Regions from separate parts of the Homo sapiens genome. Here region 1 is linked to region 2. Evidence: fine-mapped expression QTL. Tissue or cell type: lymphoblastoid cells. Region 2 holds a variant in brackets; the other region holds the start of a gene. All regions are shown on one strand. Distances are from middle to middle.

Region 1 (8,097 bases), 210 kb before region 2:
AGCTAATATCTGTGCTATTATTTATCTGTATTTAGAATTACAGAGGTATTACAGGTTAGTATGATGTAACATTCCAAATACTGACTTGCTTTTTGAAGAAAGCTGAAAAAGCATGAAATAGGAATGCAAATTGTTAGGGAGAAATAGGTATTCATATGAAAATACCAAAATCTGCCCCACCCAGAGAACGCACACAGGCATGTAAGCTGTCTTTATTGACCAAGTTCATAGGCCAGAGAGAAGCAATCCCATTAAACTGGCAATGGGTTTAATACAAACTTCTCTTTCTATTCCAGGAAACAGCCCTGTTGGGAAGAATGGGAATTCTGGCCCTCAGAGTTTCGGTGGCATTGTTCATCCATTCTCTCTCTCAGCCTCTCTCCCAGAACTTGGTAACTTTACCAGACTAGCCATTAAGGATTAGCCATACAGAAATGGCTTCTTTTTGTAATCAACAGGACCAGAAATTACAAAGATGATTTGGCAGAACCAAGCAATGCCACCCAGCCTTGAAGAGAACAGTCAGATTTGTGACCCTGAAGCATCTGCATTCTCAACCTTTCCAAATGAAAAAGTGTCTGCCCTACACACACTGTAGGTGTGTAGCATTTCATACATGGCATGTTGGCAATCAACATATAAAAATCAACTGGGATTCTGGAATTCCAAATACTGACTGAATACAACGTGGAATTCTCTTCTGCATGTCTGCTCAAATTTAAAGGGGGAAAAAAAGCCACATCAACCCCAGCGTGAAACCAGGAGGCTGTACGGGAACCTCTCAAAGGCTTACGACCCTAGTTTTGATATGTGAGTGTTTTAGAAAAAAAGAAAGTGGTACAGATTTCCTAAGACAGTCCCTAAAACACCAACCCAGGGAAATTAGGCATGGAGATATAGCAAGCTAACGTTGCAGCAAGCCCTAATGAAGTTAAATTGCATTTCCTATTAATTATCTACTCTATATCATTAGTTAATTCTTCCCCAACACTTGATAAATTAGATGGCTACATTATTCTATGTGCCATGTATAAATCTCTATTCCTATTTACTCTGACGTTTAACACAGACACACATGTGACTTCCAATAACCTTTATCCTTACAACCTTCAGCTCATACCTCTTAAGAACCACATGCTCTTGATTGCAGTTCTATTTTATTGGAAATTCCATGCCTTATGTTATGCATTGAGACAGAAAATGTAAAGAAAGATGTGCTCTTGAAATATCTAATTGCATTAAGCTAGGAAGCACACAACTAACCGCACATAAGCAACTCAAGAAGGTTGAGTTTGCAGAGAAACACTCAAACAAGGCAAGGTAGGAGTTAAGGTAGTTTTATGAAACAATGACTATTCAATGCTAGTCTCTGAATATAGTGTTAAGTCAAACAAAAGATCATAACGTGAAGGTCACATTTAAAAAGTCCTACGGCCCTTAGTAAAAGGAAAAAAAGTCCTCAGTGACTGACTGGTCATGGTGGAAAAATCCAACCTCCTCTTCCCTCACCCACCTCCAGGGCACAGCCGAAAGGATAAAAGTTCTCCTAATACCCAGAAAAACAAGCTGGCCTTTTCCAGAAGAAAAAGAGCTTTCCTAGAATCAACAAAAATTGAGGATGATCATAAAAGTCTAAGAGAGAAAAAAGCACTAGGACAACTCTAACGAGCAATTTAAATACATTACATCAAAGTGGACTATTTTCTTATGTGAACTTTGGCTCAGTCTGAAGTCTTTGGAGAGGGTGGTGCCTTTTTTTCCTAGGATGGGAGGGAAAAAGCGAACATTTAGCAGAGTATGGCAGAAATGGTCTAGTGATGCTGCAGTGCCTCCTTCTCACAACGCTAAGATGGGAAGCAGACACGTGCCCTGTAGGGCATCTGCTCGTATGTCCGGCTTGAGCTCCTGCCTGAGAGTTGCTGTGGCTCTGGAGTCTCAGAAGCTGCATCACTCACACCTCCGACCATTCCCTTCCCAGGTGGACCCCCCGCCAACCAGACCCAGAGTCTGTCCTGGGGGCCAGAGGGGCAGGCACAGAAACTGGCGCCTGGCTCCCAGGATTAAGAAGACACTATTAAAAAGCATCGCTGGTTTCCCCTAAATTTGGCAGTAGGAAAATAACTTAGGACTTTCAAGAAGAGTCCTAGTCGCTCACTGATCCGTCTTTTCCCCTCACAGATTGTGACACAGGCCCATTCCCGGTGAACATTTTGGCTGGCAGTTACTTCACCACCTATTGAAATTCTGTTTACGTTTGGCCCAGAGAACCTGGACGGATGTTTGTATCTCGGGGGCCCCATCTAGTACAATTCCTGGTGCACAGGCTTGCAACAAATTTACGAAGGTAACAGACCAAGCTGCCGGCGCTGTTTTTCACTGGAGGAAAGCTCGGCGGAAGCGACACCTAGAGGGGAGCGGCGGGCTGTGGCCGCGCCATTCATCAGTGTCGGCGGCCCGCGGCCGCGAGCGAGGGCTGCTGGACAGCGCCCCGGCACCCGCTCTCGAGCCGCGACACCGACCTCGCCGGGCCCGCCCCGCTGACCCGCGCACTCCTAGTGCACTTGCCGCGCCGCGCGGAGGCTCGCCGCGCTCTGGAAAACAAGAAACCCCACTGCCTCGGCGGCTTTCCGCTCCCGCAAGAGTTGCGGGCACAAAGTCCTCAGGTGGCAGGCCTGGGGTTGGCGCCGCTTTGTCGGCTGCAGGGAGCCCCAAAGACTAGCGTCAGCTCGTCCCCAAACTCGAGGCGACAGGCGCCGAAAGCAGAGTGCTGTGCCTGCCTCGTCCAGGTCCCTCCTGAAACTCAGAACTCGTCTTTGTTTTGCGGGCGCAAAGAGGGCGGAGATCATCCACAGTGCAAGCTCTCTTAGGACCAAGCCCCCAGCCCGAACGCTGAACGCCCCCAACACACTGCTCCCTAGACACGTTCAAGCGGGTACCCCGGGCCGCTCACTCTGGACCGCGGCCGGCTACGCACAAGCAGCGCCGCAGGCTGCCTGGAGTCGGGTCGTGCCCTGATTCCTTCCTCCCCAGCCTCACATGCGGCGGACCCCGGGGAAGCCAGGGCCAGGCGAAGCGCAGCGGGCCCTTTGGGCTGCAGCGAGGAGACGCAAGTTTCCCCGCAAAGCCGCGGGGAGGAGGTGCTGAGAATGCCTGCCCGGCGCCCCAACCCGGAGCCAAGGGCACCGGGCCCGGGCCGAGGGGCCGCGCTCGCCTGGCTCCGCCGGGGCCGCTCGGGGTCCTGAACCCAAGAACGGCGCCTGCAGGATTTCGGAGCCGGGCGCGAGCTGCGGGCTCGGCCCGAGCGCTTCTGCGTGGCGCCCCGCGTGCCAACCGGGTCACTCCGGTCCCCACCGTAGACCCCGGCCACGAGCCTCGGCGTCCCAGCCTCTCCTCGAGTCCTGGCCTTGGCCGGGGTAGCCCTGCCGAGCCCTGGCCCAGCGGTCCCTTCCCCGCGGGCAAACTTGGCTTTCCCGGCGCGGGCAGTAAGGACAAGCAAGCGCCCGCGCCGGGCCCTGCAGCAAGATGCGGGGCCGCGGGCGCCAGGACCCCAGTGGGGTGCAGCGGGACCGGCTGGTGGCGGCGCCAGCGACATGGCACCCTCCCCGCGCCCGCTGGGAGCTGCGCCCGCGTACCTGAGACGGCCGGGGCCGAGGGGAAGACCAGGTGGCCGGACTTGGGCGGGAGGGAGGGAGCACCCCGTGGCGGCGGCGGCGACCCCGCCCCGCGTCCTTCGGCTGGTTTCTCGGGCTGTCGGCGGGTCCCGGGCTCGCTGGAGGCTGTTGAGGCTCCAGCTCCCTGAGCCGCCGCTGCCCGCTGCTGTGCCACCGCCGCCGCGGCTGCCCTATTTCTGCCGCCGGGACCGGAGCCCGTGACGTCACCCTCTGGGCCCCGCCTGCCCAATCGCCGCCACCTGTGCGCGCCGCCCGCCCGCCAGCCGGTCAGACCCGCGCGGCGGCCACGGCAGGTGCGCGGAGCAGGCGGGCGCGCACGCGGGGCGCGATGACTCCGGAGCGCTGGGGCCATCTAGGGCCCGGAGGGAGGAGGGCCAGCGTAGCGCTCCTGCCTCTGGCTAGCGTGGAGCTCGGCAAGTGACAGCCCCTCTTCACCTCTGCTCTCCTCCAGGCTCCTTTCCGGGCCAGGTTCCCCAAAGCTGTGCTCTCCAGGCGCACAGGGGGTCTCTGAATCCGCGGCCATTGCTCGTGGAGTCCAGGCGGGCCGGTACACCACAGCAGGAGAGCTGTCCCTGGGGACAAAGTGGGTGAAATCCCCCGCCGTTGAGACCCAACAACCTGGGAAACAGCAAAGGTTTTCTCTTTTCTGAATCTTCCCTCTTCCAACTACAGAATCTTAAGACATTCAGGGCATACAGGGGCAATCCCAAGTGACATTTGCCTACCTGACCTAGCTGGGCCCAGAGGGTCCCTTCTCCCTTAGAACAGGATATTTCCCCATCCTGATCCCATCCCCAAGCCTGGGGCTCCCAAACTTTTCTGAATCCCTCTTTAACATCAGCAGCTTTTGAGATCAGTCTTCCTTCCCGAATGAACTGGAAACACCTTTGTAACAACTAGGGGCCCATAAATGGTCATACGTAGCCTCAGTCTGGCAGGAAACTTAGGAGGGAGCCCCTACCCAGGCCAGGCTGATGGCCAGGAGACTTTCTGAGGGCCTGCCTCCTGCTCTGGCTGCGTGGGCACCAGGGGCCTTCCTGGCTTAGGTGAACAGTGTTCTGTCCATGCCTCTGTAATCTCTCCTGGCCGGGGGGAGGTGACAGAGGGGATTTTTCTGAGGATGAAGTTAGTTAAATATAAGGAAAAGGGGAAGAATAATGGAAGGCTGACCTGAAGAAAGAGATATTACGTTTGTTTTTTCCTTCCACAGATTTTCCTGCCGCTGAACCCCTCCAATGCAGCAGGCACTGTGCTATTAATAGTTGCTAGAGATACAGCAGTGAATGGGCCAGCGCGGTCTTGGCATCACACAGTTTTGGTCTGGGGTCCAGCTCTCCCTCTATCACTGCCAAGCTATGTAATGCAGAGCCAATCGTATCTCTACTGTAGGTATCAGTTTCCCCACTTGTAAAATGAGGGGTTGGACAAAACCTGGTTGACTTCCCATGTGGATACCATGATTTTTACTCAGAAGGATAAAGGCTACTACATCCTCAGTGACCCTGGGCCCTAGCCAGTGTGATCCTCTCTCAGATTTGACTATGAATCTTTGCCAAGGCCACCATGACTGAACTTCTGGGGCTGGCTAGGGGCCAGATTCTCCATGGCAGGACTGGGGAAGGGATGGCACTTTTCATCTTGGGAAACAGAAAAGAGAAAATGAGTATAAAAGGAAGCAGGGAAGTTTGGAAATGTGCTGTGCCTCCCTCTGAAATGTAATTCTAAGTCTGTGGTCAGGAACGTACACCATGGCTTAGAGGCTGGATTCGGCTCTCCTCTAAGACATGAGGTATTTGGAAAAGCAGATTTCTATTCTCAGCTCTGATCACAAAGTCCCTGAGTCAACCTAGTGGCCTTATTACATAATCAAAGCAGGACTTTGTGTATTTTTTGTTTTTTAGTAACTCAAGGTCATATGTAAATCAGGGTCTATAGGTTGACCAAGATCAGAAATAGCTCTGTTTAATGCAGTGAACAGGCACTGAACTTCTACACGCTTCCCAAAGAAGGAGAAGAAGGTAGTTGCTGCAAACCAGATGTATGGAATATTCCTTAGAGAGAATGCTAACATCTGAAGTGAGCTGTTTAACTACTGTGCATAAAATAAGAGTGAAATTAAAAGTCACCTCGGAATGAGAAAGGTGAAGTGTGAATGACAAAATAAAACAAGGCTCCAGGGAAGCAGCATCAGATGCCAGTAACCTTGACACCTCTTTGAATTGCTCTGTGCTTTTACCTCTCAGTGTAATTTTTTGTTTAATAGTACACCCCAAATTGGAAAATAGGCTAGATTTCACACTGAGAATTTCAAAATTTGCCTGAAACCCTGTTTCAGAACTTGCAAGCATACTGATTCTCAATAGCCAACTAGGATTCTTAGGGGAAATAATGGTTAAGTTTTGAACTTCATGTAATTCAATAAGCTTGGAATAGGGGAGCTAAAAGGAAACATAAATTCCAGTTACTGCCCCCCAGCCCCACTCTGTTTTTGGTGAGTGGTTCAGCCAGAGACACACATAAAAACATTATTAATATACTTTTACAAGATCAAAAAGTTTAAGCAACCCAAATATTTTTTTACGTTGCTGGTTTAAAATCTTTTTTCTATTTCTAATCCTTACCAAAAACACAACAATATAATGAAAAACTACTGCCAAATGATGTGTGTCTCTTAGGACATTTCAGATTACACCTGCATATCAGGATACTCAGAGATGACACATAGCCATGGGAATCAGGAGGAAGCAAGGCACTTTCTCCAGATCCAACCAAAAGTATCTGCATCACTAACTGTGGGTCAGCTTACCCTTGGGAGTCCCCACTAGGCTGGTCAAACAGTGCCTAGAAATACCCATTAGAAGCCAGACTGGGAAGTCATGTGAGAAGGTGGGAAAAGGCAGGAAAGAGTCTTCCTTGTCTTGCATAATTTAACGTTCTGCTGCCTGTTCAAAAAATGTTTTTGTAAATCTTCAAACCAAACCATGCAGTTTACTGAAGAGCCAGCCCTGTGCTTAGGAGAGCCCTGGATGGGAGGCACAAGGATGGGGTCTCTCTCCCGCCTCAGCCTCTAGGGCTCAGTGAGCCTGGGAGAGTCACACCTTTCCCAGAACTTGTTTTCTCTTAAGTGGGAATTGGGAATGGGTACATGGGAGGCAGTCATACTAAACGACATGTCTAAGGCCATTTTCAGTTCTAAAGGTCTATGCCTTTATTTTGCCTGTATTTATAGAAGTTCAGTTATTCTGATCTAAACAGAGCTATGATGTTGAAGTTTTCCTCTAAGTCTAATATTAATGCTTATTTTTAAGATGATAATTCATTAATCACCTAGAAATTAAGGGAATGTAGGCAGTAAGTTCAAGATCCTAGACTTAAGATTACACATACATAATTGTTTTTAACTTTATTTCAGGGAGAAAAGTAGCTAGCATGGAGATAAGGTATTCATTCAAGGGACAACTGTGATTGGGGAAATTTTTCGAGACAAAGAAGAAGTGGTATAGAGTAGGAATTTTAATGAAGAAGTTGGGATAAATGAGAAGATGCAGTGATGGAAAGGGAATTGTGAATGGTAAAAATGGAGGGAGATGAACATAAAACCCTCACCATGGCATTGTTACCAAGGCAAATTCCCAGCAAACTCACAGGGGCTGGATTGATGGCACAAGGGGACCAAGAAAGGTGCTGATAACAGGAGGAAACTGAAGTCTGCTACTCTTAAGAATGTATTGTTTACAAGGGATAATTGGGGATGAGATGGCCAGGCCTACAGCCACAAACTATCATACCCTACTGAGTATAGGCAAAAGGGATGAAAGAGGGAACATATTAAGAGGAGAGTGAAAAGAGGGGCCAATTTCCTTTCTTTGAAAGGGACAACATAATTTTTATCATGACCCTGTTTTCCAACTCACCAGTATAGAATCATAAATAATGTGAAAATCTAAATCTATCTATCTATCTATCTATCTATCTATCTATCTATCTATCTAATTTTAAAGGTGAACTGCTACCTTAGGGAGCTTCCATTCTTTCTTTTCCTCTTCTTTTCTTTTTGAGACAGGGTCTTACTCTGTCACCCAGGCTGGAGTCCAGTGGTGGGATCACAGCTCACTGTAGCCTCAACCTCCCTGGGCTCAGGTGATCCTCCCACCTTAGCCTCCCAATAGCTGGGACTACAGGCATGCACTACCATACCCAGGTAATTTTTGTACTTTTTGTAGAGACGGGGTCTCCCTATGTTGCCCAGGCTGGTCTTGAACTCCTGGGCTCAAGTAATTTGCCCCACCTCGGCCTCCCAAAGAGCTGGGATTACAGGCATGAGCTACCTGGCTGGCTGAAGCTTCCATTCTTCTAAATAAACGTTCCTTTCAAATGAATATGCAGTATTATGATGGGTCACCTCAAGGGCTATGAAGACAACTAT
Region 2 (8,103 bases):
AGGAATTGGCAGTGTGTGTGCTCAGGGGTGAGAGGTGCTATGAAGACTCCAGCTCAAGTGGAGAGTTGAGCACATGTGGGGACAGGGAAGAGGGCACTGTGGAGGAGGCGCAGGACTGGATCCAACAGGGCCCAGAAGCCAGCAGGGAGGAGCTCCTACTTCATCCCATGGGTTTATTAGGGAGTCACTAAGGATTCTTGAGCAGGATAATTATGACCCCAGGCAACATGCTCAGAAAGGACAAGGAGTGAGATACCAGAGAAAAGGAGACTGGTCGGAAATTCAGTTGCCAGGAACGTAGCGGTGCAAGGAGGAGGAACACAAAAGGCAGGAGGATCAGATGCCAAGGGTCTTATGGGAGCCCAACGGGGGCACAGTGAGAAGGGAAGAATGAAGACAAGTGACCCTGGGGGGTCACACTCAGGCATATTTCTCAATCAAACCTCCTGCACTTCTTGAGTGACAAAGATGACTTGCCTCCAAGACTCTGCATTGCAAGAACAAAGAGAAAAGCTGATATGACAAAATGCTTAGAATTATGTCTTTGATGTATGAACACTCCTCGCCCCCTGGACCCTGATAAACAGAGTTCACCCCAGAATCCCTTGATGTATCCAAAGTGCACATCTTTAATAACAAGAGGTCTCTGAAGGTAGATTTCCTCTTCCATTTGTGGAGCTATTTCAATTTTTAGGGGCTTGGAGATGCTTCCGATTAATTGTTAAGTTAGCCTTTTGAGACCTCAATTTATATGCAGCATTGACCAGTGTCTGCAAATAATCTGAGCAGAGGAAGGAATAGATCCTTAGGAAATTAATGTAATCGTTTCAGCTCATTATTTGAAGAGCATATTCTCAGAGCCCAGAAACTTCATTCATTCATTCAAAATTGCTCTGAAATCCAATTAAAATCAGGGGTCACACACAGAACCATTGTTTATTTCTTCATTACTGAGATGGGAGAGTAGACTTTAAAACTGCAGAAATCTAAGGAAGGTGAGGGTGGAGCCGTGGGAAATCAGGGAGGGTCCCTGGTGAAGCCAGAAAGCTAAGGATGTGAACATTCCGGGGGCGTCATGGAAAGGCACACGCACCGATGCTCCTGGAAAGGCAACATTTCAACAAGAATATGAATCCCATCTTTAATAAATAGTTTTTAGTCCTTCAGCAGATATTAAACATCCTTTTTCGGACCCACGAACTCTAACGCCATGCAAAAGGAAGCCCAAAACCAAAAAACAAAGAGTAGAGAATTACCTCCCAGAGGTAATTCTGCCAGAAGTCTGAAGATATGTGGGAAGGAAATGTGATTCATTTATTCATGTGTCCTTTTAACAATATCCATAGAGATCTTACCTAAACTACAGCAGTGAACAAATCAGACAGTCTCTCTGCCCTGGAGTAGCTTTCATGTGGGGGCAGGAGGTGGGGTTGGGGGCATGGGCATGGAAACAGACCATGAACAATAGACAAAGTAAACAGGTAAAGCATATGGTACATTAGAAGGTGATCAAGTGCCATAGCGTTCAGGAGACAAACCTTCAAGGCAAGAAGTCAAGAACTTCTGGATGGGCAAGAACAAAACAGGAAAAGAAAGCAGAGCCCAGAGCTGGTCACCACCAGGTGCTCCTGGGCCATTCATAGGTCCCAATCAGCTCCTCTCAAAAGTAGCTTCAGCACCCCAGGAAATAAGTTGAAATTAAAACATCAGAAGAGGGTGTCCCACAGCAGCCCTGCTGGTCCCCTGAGCAACAATTACATTCCACAGGAAAGGACTTCAGCACAGCCCCAAATCATGCCCCTGTACCCAGAATCTCTCCCCAGCCCTGCACTCTCCTCCTCTCCAGGGGCTGGTTTGGGCCCCCTTGGACAGAGGGAGTGATGAGGCCTTAGTCTGAAAGTCAGTCTTAGGGGACTTGTCACACAGAGGGGAGATCTCACTGGAAGCCAGATCCTCAGGATGTCAGAGACTCAAACACCCAGCAGGTCTGAGAATAGCTCCCAGAGAGGCAGTATGGTGTCCCGGACAGAGTGCCCCTGTCTCCTTCCCCACTCCTCCACCAAGCTGGAAACCAGGGGAGTCCTGCTTGGCCAGGAGCCTGCTGGGACACATGGACCAGTCCACTCCCCTCTCTTGTCTCAAGTCCCTCTGTTGTAAAATGAGGAGGCTGATTGGGTGGCTTTCTGACCAAGGTCAGCATACCCTGGAACTGGGGCATGGGGAAGTCCTCATGCCCCCTCCAAAGCCAGCCTGCCCCTGGGGAGAAAGGGCCAGATGGGAGGGCTGCAACTCCCCGCTGCAGAACAGCTCCCCTTTTCTTTGTCTTACATATTGAGTTTCCTTCTAAGGTTTAATTTTTTAAAGAATGTTGCTGCTAGATAGATGTTTGAAAGCCACTTCTAGTGTTCTGAGACAAATACCTTTGAAGAGACGGGACAAAGACCAAAGTGTTTTTCCCTCTACCCCCACACCACCCAGGCACTCAAGACAATACTTCTGACACCAGATGCATGGGAGGGTTTTCTCACACACCACGCAATTCTGTAGGTGATTCTCTAGCAGACACCAGCTGGGTGTCCTCTTCTTCAATTCAGTTCTGACACTGTCTACCTGGAGAGAGCATCAGATCCCACAGGACTGCTCCCACTCCAGATGCCAATCATAAATAGTGGGTTGCCACCTATGCTTCTGATGGACCCACTATAAATGAGGGTTCCCACAGCCCCCTCCTTGGGTTCGATTAATCTGCTATAGCAGCTCACAGAACTCAGGGAAACGCTTTACTTACATTTACCAGTTTAATCCAGGTGAAAGAGATCCACAGAACAAGGCATGTGCCCCCATCCTGAGGCTATTTAGGGGCCACCAGCCATCTCAGAAGCAGACAAAAGACACTCATATCCCTCTAGAGATTCCAGGGCTTCAGGATCTCTTGCCAGGAAAGGGAGATGAAGACCAAATGTATATTTCACAGTATCAGAGTACCTGAGTATATTTCACCACCATTAAACAAGAGGTGATGCATGACTCAGCTCCATCAGAGAAGTAAGAAGACTCGGGGCGAAGAAGGCCCTGTGCCTTTCTCTGGCACACTGGAAGCACCTGCTTGTGTACCAGCTTCTCACCAAGACCCCTGTTGCCAAAGCAACCAAGTTTGGCTTTTCCTGCCCAAAGCACGCAGGCATCCTTGAGCAGGGGAGAGGTGGAGCCAGGCATGCACCGGGAAACCACCACATACCATGTCCAATGGCTGAGCCCTTTGAACTCTCAAGGTTGCTAAATGGTACCTGAGTCCAGGACTCCCACCAAGACACCCAACTCCACAGACAGACAAGTTAATAAATCACAGCGTGAATCCC[C/T]TTCAGAGGGTGGCTGTGTGTAAAAATAGAGAGGGCACCACAGCTTCCTGCCCACCTTTTCCTGGTGTCCCTGGAATCATTCATTACAACCACAGGGCAAGAGTCCGTGGTGGCAGAGATGAAGAGGCTCAGTGGCCTGGCTCCACCTCCTCACTTCACAGAGACACTGAGGTCACTCAGGGACTCAGTGCCTCGCTGCACTCACACAGAGACTCAGGAGTCAAAACCAGTTAAAACCAGGCCTCAGGTCTCCCTACTCCCACGCCACCTTGAAGGACACACCCCCCAGAAACCACAGCTCACTCCTTTTTCAGGACTTCATAGTCAAGAAACAAGCCCTGCCAATCCTATGCTCAAAAGTCCCCAGGCTGAGATGCAGGTCTTTCAGGTGGGCACCAAACTTTGGTCTGGAATCTTGAACTCATTTCAAAGTGTTTCTCAAGATGGTTCTTGTATAATTTCCACCTTAGCACAAACTAATAGCTCCTCATTGCAATTCCTCTGCCTCTGCAGCCATTTACCACTGCATTGACCTTTGCTTCTAGGTTAATTATCAATAGTTTTGTCTATTGAAGAAATTGAACTGAATTAGCTTAGTTTTAATCTCTCATCAGTAATTCAAATGACCATTTCCCACTGATGAAAAATAAAACTATCCGCGGGGGTGGGTGCAGGAGAGCCACCAACTCCTAACAAGGCTTCACCAGGCAGGGAGGGGCATGGCCCTCACCAGTAGGCATCAAAGCCGTTCCCCTGGCGTCCCATGCTTGAGTGCCCTCGGTCTGGACTGGACTTGTGCCAGGGAGCACGGAGGATGTCCCAGGTTGGTCCGGCCCTGTCTGACAGCCCATTAGCTCCAGCTGTCGGTGACATCTGCCTGCTCTGATTACCGTCAGAGCTGCGGAGAAGCAATGGCCCCCAGCATCGAGCTGTCTCCCCCTGTGCTCAGCTGTCATCAAGTATTGTGTTTCCACCTCAAGGCACTCAGAACCCATCCCCGGCTGCTATTTATAACCTTCCTTGAGGTCGCCTGCCGGTGAGGCTGCAGAAGGGGTGTGCCACTTCAGGGCAAAAGGCCCCAAACACCACCAACTTCCTGCCACTGCCTCCAGGTGAGAAGCAGGCAACTTCTGAGCTGAGCAAAATCAATTCACAAAAGTACATGCAGCATCAGGTCAGCTTCCACTGCGCTCCATGGCTGGGGACTCCAGGCTACATGAGAGGGACACTGAGACTAGGGCAGCTTGCGATGTCACCAGAGGCCTGGAGAGATGGATTCAGATGGCGCCACATGGCTCCATGCTCAGCCTGACAGGACTGCCTCTGATATCTAAAAAGATGCCACAGTGATTGCAAAGGGACTGAAAATCCCAGCCTTTGACTTGTGCTGAGCCACCCATGTTAGTTTCCTGTGGCTGCCATAACAAAGGACCACAAACTGGGTGGCTTATAACGACAGAAATGATTCTCCCACAGTTCTGAAGCCCAGAAGCCCAGAATCCTGCCACACCAGACTCCCTCCAGGGACCCTAAGGGAGAAGCTGCCTTTGCCTCTTTCAGCTTCTGGTGGCCATCAGCATTCCTTGACTTGTGGCCGCATCACTCCAACCTCTGCCTCTGTGGCCACACTGCCTCCTCTTCGTGTGTCTTCTCTGTGTCTCAAATCCCCCGTTGGCCTTTCTCCTACAAGGACACTTGGATGCAGGGCCCACCTAGGTAATCCAGGAGTATCACCCCATCTCAAGATCCTTAATTTAATTTCACCTGCAAAACTGTTTTTCCAAATAAAGTCACACACACTGGGCTCAGGGACGTAGATACATCTTTTGGGGGACCACCTATTCAACCTAGTCTATACCCCAACCTAAGGGAATAAAACAAGAGTCTGGCTTTTAGAGTCAGGAAGCACTGGGTTTGAATCCCACCACTGCCACTGACTTAATAACTAAAATTCTGTCTTTTCTTAGGATGTCACCAGCACCCAGTGTGATTCCAATAACAGGGCCCAGCAGGGCAGGGATCTGAGAACAGGCCTTGCCCTCCTCCCCTCTCACCACAGAAGGCCCAATGGCACGCCCAGTGACAGTCCCGCCCCAGGCCCAGATGGGAGCAGGAACTTTGTGGGTCCGTAAAGACGGCCTGCAGAGGAGCCATTTGCTTTCCCCACTCCAGGGAAGCAGCACTCTGTCACCTCTTATGATACCGCATCATCCTCGGCTCTGGGACCTGGCTGCCTGCCTGCTTGTTTCTGCCTCAGCGCCCCCAGCAGCACCAATAGGTCTCCATCCAGGCTTTGTTTGCTTTTAATTACTAAGCCAACTAAGTGAGCCCCCAGCACAGACACACCTGGCTGCCTCTGACAGGTAATGAATCGTTCAACCATGTTCAAGGACAGGCCTTCCTGACAGCAGCGGGGCGATCAACTGAACAAAGTCAGGGTGAGCTGGGAGGGCAGAGAATATTGACTAAGGAGTGTCGCGGATGCCTGCCTCCCAACACTGCCCCTGAGCTCAGCTGATATGGATGCAGATAGTCTTGGGACCACAAGTTTCTGACGAGGAGGATTGATTTCTCTAGGAAAATGGAGAGTGGACACTGTGCAAATACTCTCTTATATATCAGCACCAACATGGAGATCCTTTAAACATCACTTTTCAGTGACCAAAAGAAGAGTTTTTCTTAAGACCAGAGAGAAGACATCCAAGTCTGTGGACTCCTCTTGTATGATTTTCCTCCACAGGCTGAAAAGACCTACAAAGCCATGGGTTTCTTCCACACTATCTCACCCCAAATTCTGTACATTGCACACAAGGCTGGTCACACACCTCTCTGGAGCCATCCTCAAGCAGAAGAGGGTCATGTTCAACAACCCAGGGTTGACAAAGGACAGAGCATGAGGCATGGGCACAACTGGGGGTCTTGCAGGCTATAAGGATCAAGATTTGCCTCAAAACTTGAGAGGTCAGCCACACCCTGTGCGTCAGTAGCTATCCCAGCCCCCTGGGCAGGAGAGAGCTGCCAAGAAATGCTGAACACTTGGTATCTCCTGGGTCACAAAGCCATCGAGGGAAGCCAGAGGGTTGGCCACCCCAACTCCTGTCCCTGGCGGCAACATGGAAACTCCACCCCGGTGGACACAGACCATTGGGTTGGGGACATATGGTCAGTGTTCAGTCACCCTCCTCTGCTGTGTGTTAAGCTGGGGAAGATTCCCTAGGGGAGGACAAGGGCCAGGAACAAGGAAGGCTTCGTGTGAGCTGGTGGGTCTGGTGGCTTCCTGGGGAACCAAAGACACCAGGGCTGGGAAGGGAAAGAGCAAGTGCGCTCTTGACACCTTTCTTATAAAAATTCTAAGTACATATGTATAGGTATACATACACACATGTGCCTAGTGGATCCTAAAGTTTGCGCACTAAAGTGTTCACAATGCTTCACCCTCAGTGACAGGATTTTTCACTGTGCTTTGTCTCTATTTTCCAAATTTTCTACAATATACACCATATTACTTTTATAATGTGAAAAAGTGCTATTTTTTAAAAACTGTACAAATGCAAAGAATTGGCACTCTTAATCTCAGATCGCTACATCCGTTCTGTAGGAACGAGTGCCCTATTTGTCAACTTTTTGTAACAGACTGTGCCTAATTAAATTCTAGAGAAAACCCAGTCACACCCTCAGCCAATTCTGCATCAGGCACTATGGGCACCGTGATCCTCCAGGCCCAAGGGGGACACCGGACTGCTGGTTCTCTCCTCTGCAAACGCTGGAGCCCCAACACCACTATTTATCCCATTTAAGAATAACCAAAAGTACAAAATAGATTTCATAAATCACTTAGTCTTTACAGCTTGCTCCTCAAGGACATGCATGCAGGCTTCTAGCAAAGATGATGCAAAATAACAAGACAGATGTAGTAACCAATACGAAGTGCTTGCTTCACTAAACAAAGAGCTTTTGATGCTGTAACTCAATTTGCGTTGGCATAATAGGATCTGAGTGGGGCTAAGAGGAGCCACATAACAGCGGGCAGGCAGCCTCACCAGCAGAGGGGAGCATGGAAACACACGGCAGAGCCTCCCGGGGCCACGTGCTTCTCATCTGGGACCTCCGAAAGGCACCATTTCTTCAGGTAATCCTCAGAGGGATTGCTCATGTTCCTCCAAGAAAAGGCTCAAACAGCTTGGCATGGTGCCTCACGCCTGTAATCCCAGCACTTTGGGAGGCCAAGGTGGGAGGATCACCTGAGGTCAGGAGTTCAAGTCCAGCCTGGCCAAAACAGCGAAACCCTGTTTCTACTAAAAATACAAAAAAATAAAATTAGCCGGGTGTGGTAGCATGTGCCTGTAGTCCCAGCTACTCAGGACTTGCATCGCTTGAACCGGGAGGCAGAGGTTGCAGTGAGCTGAGATCGCGCCACTGCACTCCAGCCTCGGCAACAGAGTGAGACTCTGTCTCAAAAAAAAAGAAAAGAAAGAAAAAGCTCAAACATTTCATGGTTGTTTGTGGAACCAAAACCCAAACCAAACAGCTCTTCCTTCCCTGTGCCCTGCTCTCCCATTCATTTATTCAGCACCTGCTCTATATTGAGCACTTACTGTGTCCACCAAAGTGAGTAGGGAGAAGAATTAGACACAGTTGCCAACACTCAGGCTGACAGGTGCTTTCCTTGTGTTGTCAGGGGGAGAGAAAGGGTTCATGGTTTTGCTGCCCCTGCTGCTCTGAGAGTGGTAGAAAAGAACCAGAA

Which allele goes with the higher level. Positions count from the first base shown, and alleles are read on the strand shown. Sizes are in standard deviations (SD) of each study's normalised expression.
For the expression in lymphoblastoid cells of the gene that starts at base 3,849 in region 1, C is the high allele of the variant in region 2 and T is the other (moderate effect, 0.73 SD a copy in GEUVADIS).

Evidence for each region. PIP is the estimated chance that this variant, and not a neighbour inherited with it, causes the effect.
Region 1: it holds the start of FSTL4, and the variant in region 2 is fine-mapped to the expression of FSTL4 in lymphoblastoid cells (GEUVADIS, PIP 0.95).

Annotation. Positions count from the first base shown.
Region 1 is chr5:133,608,693-133,616,789 of GRCh38, forward strand. FSTL4 (follistatin like 4) reads right to left here and starts at 3,849. Exons shown (of 16, transcript NM_015082.2): 1 at 3,633-3,849. RefSeq lists a silencer at 2,531-2,580.
Region 2 is chr5:133,821,572-133,829,674 of GRCh38, forward strand. It overlaps a transcript of FSTL4 not described here. Among named protein-coding and RNA genes, the nearest start is that of WSPAR, 88 kb to the right of the region's middle. RefSeq lists an enhancer at 3,249-3,298. The variant C/T (reference allele first, on the strand shown) is at 3,360.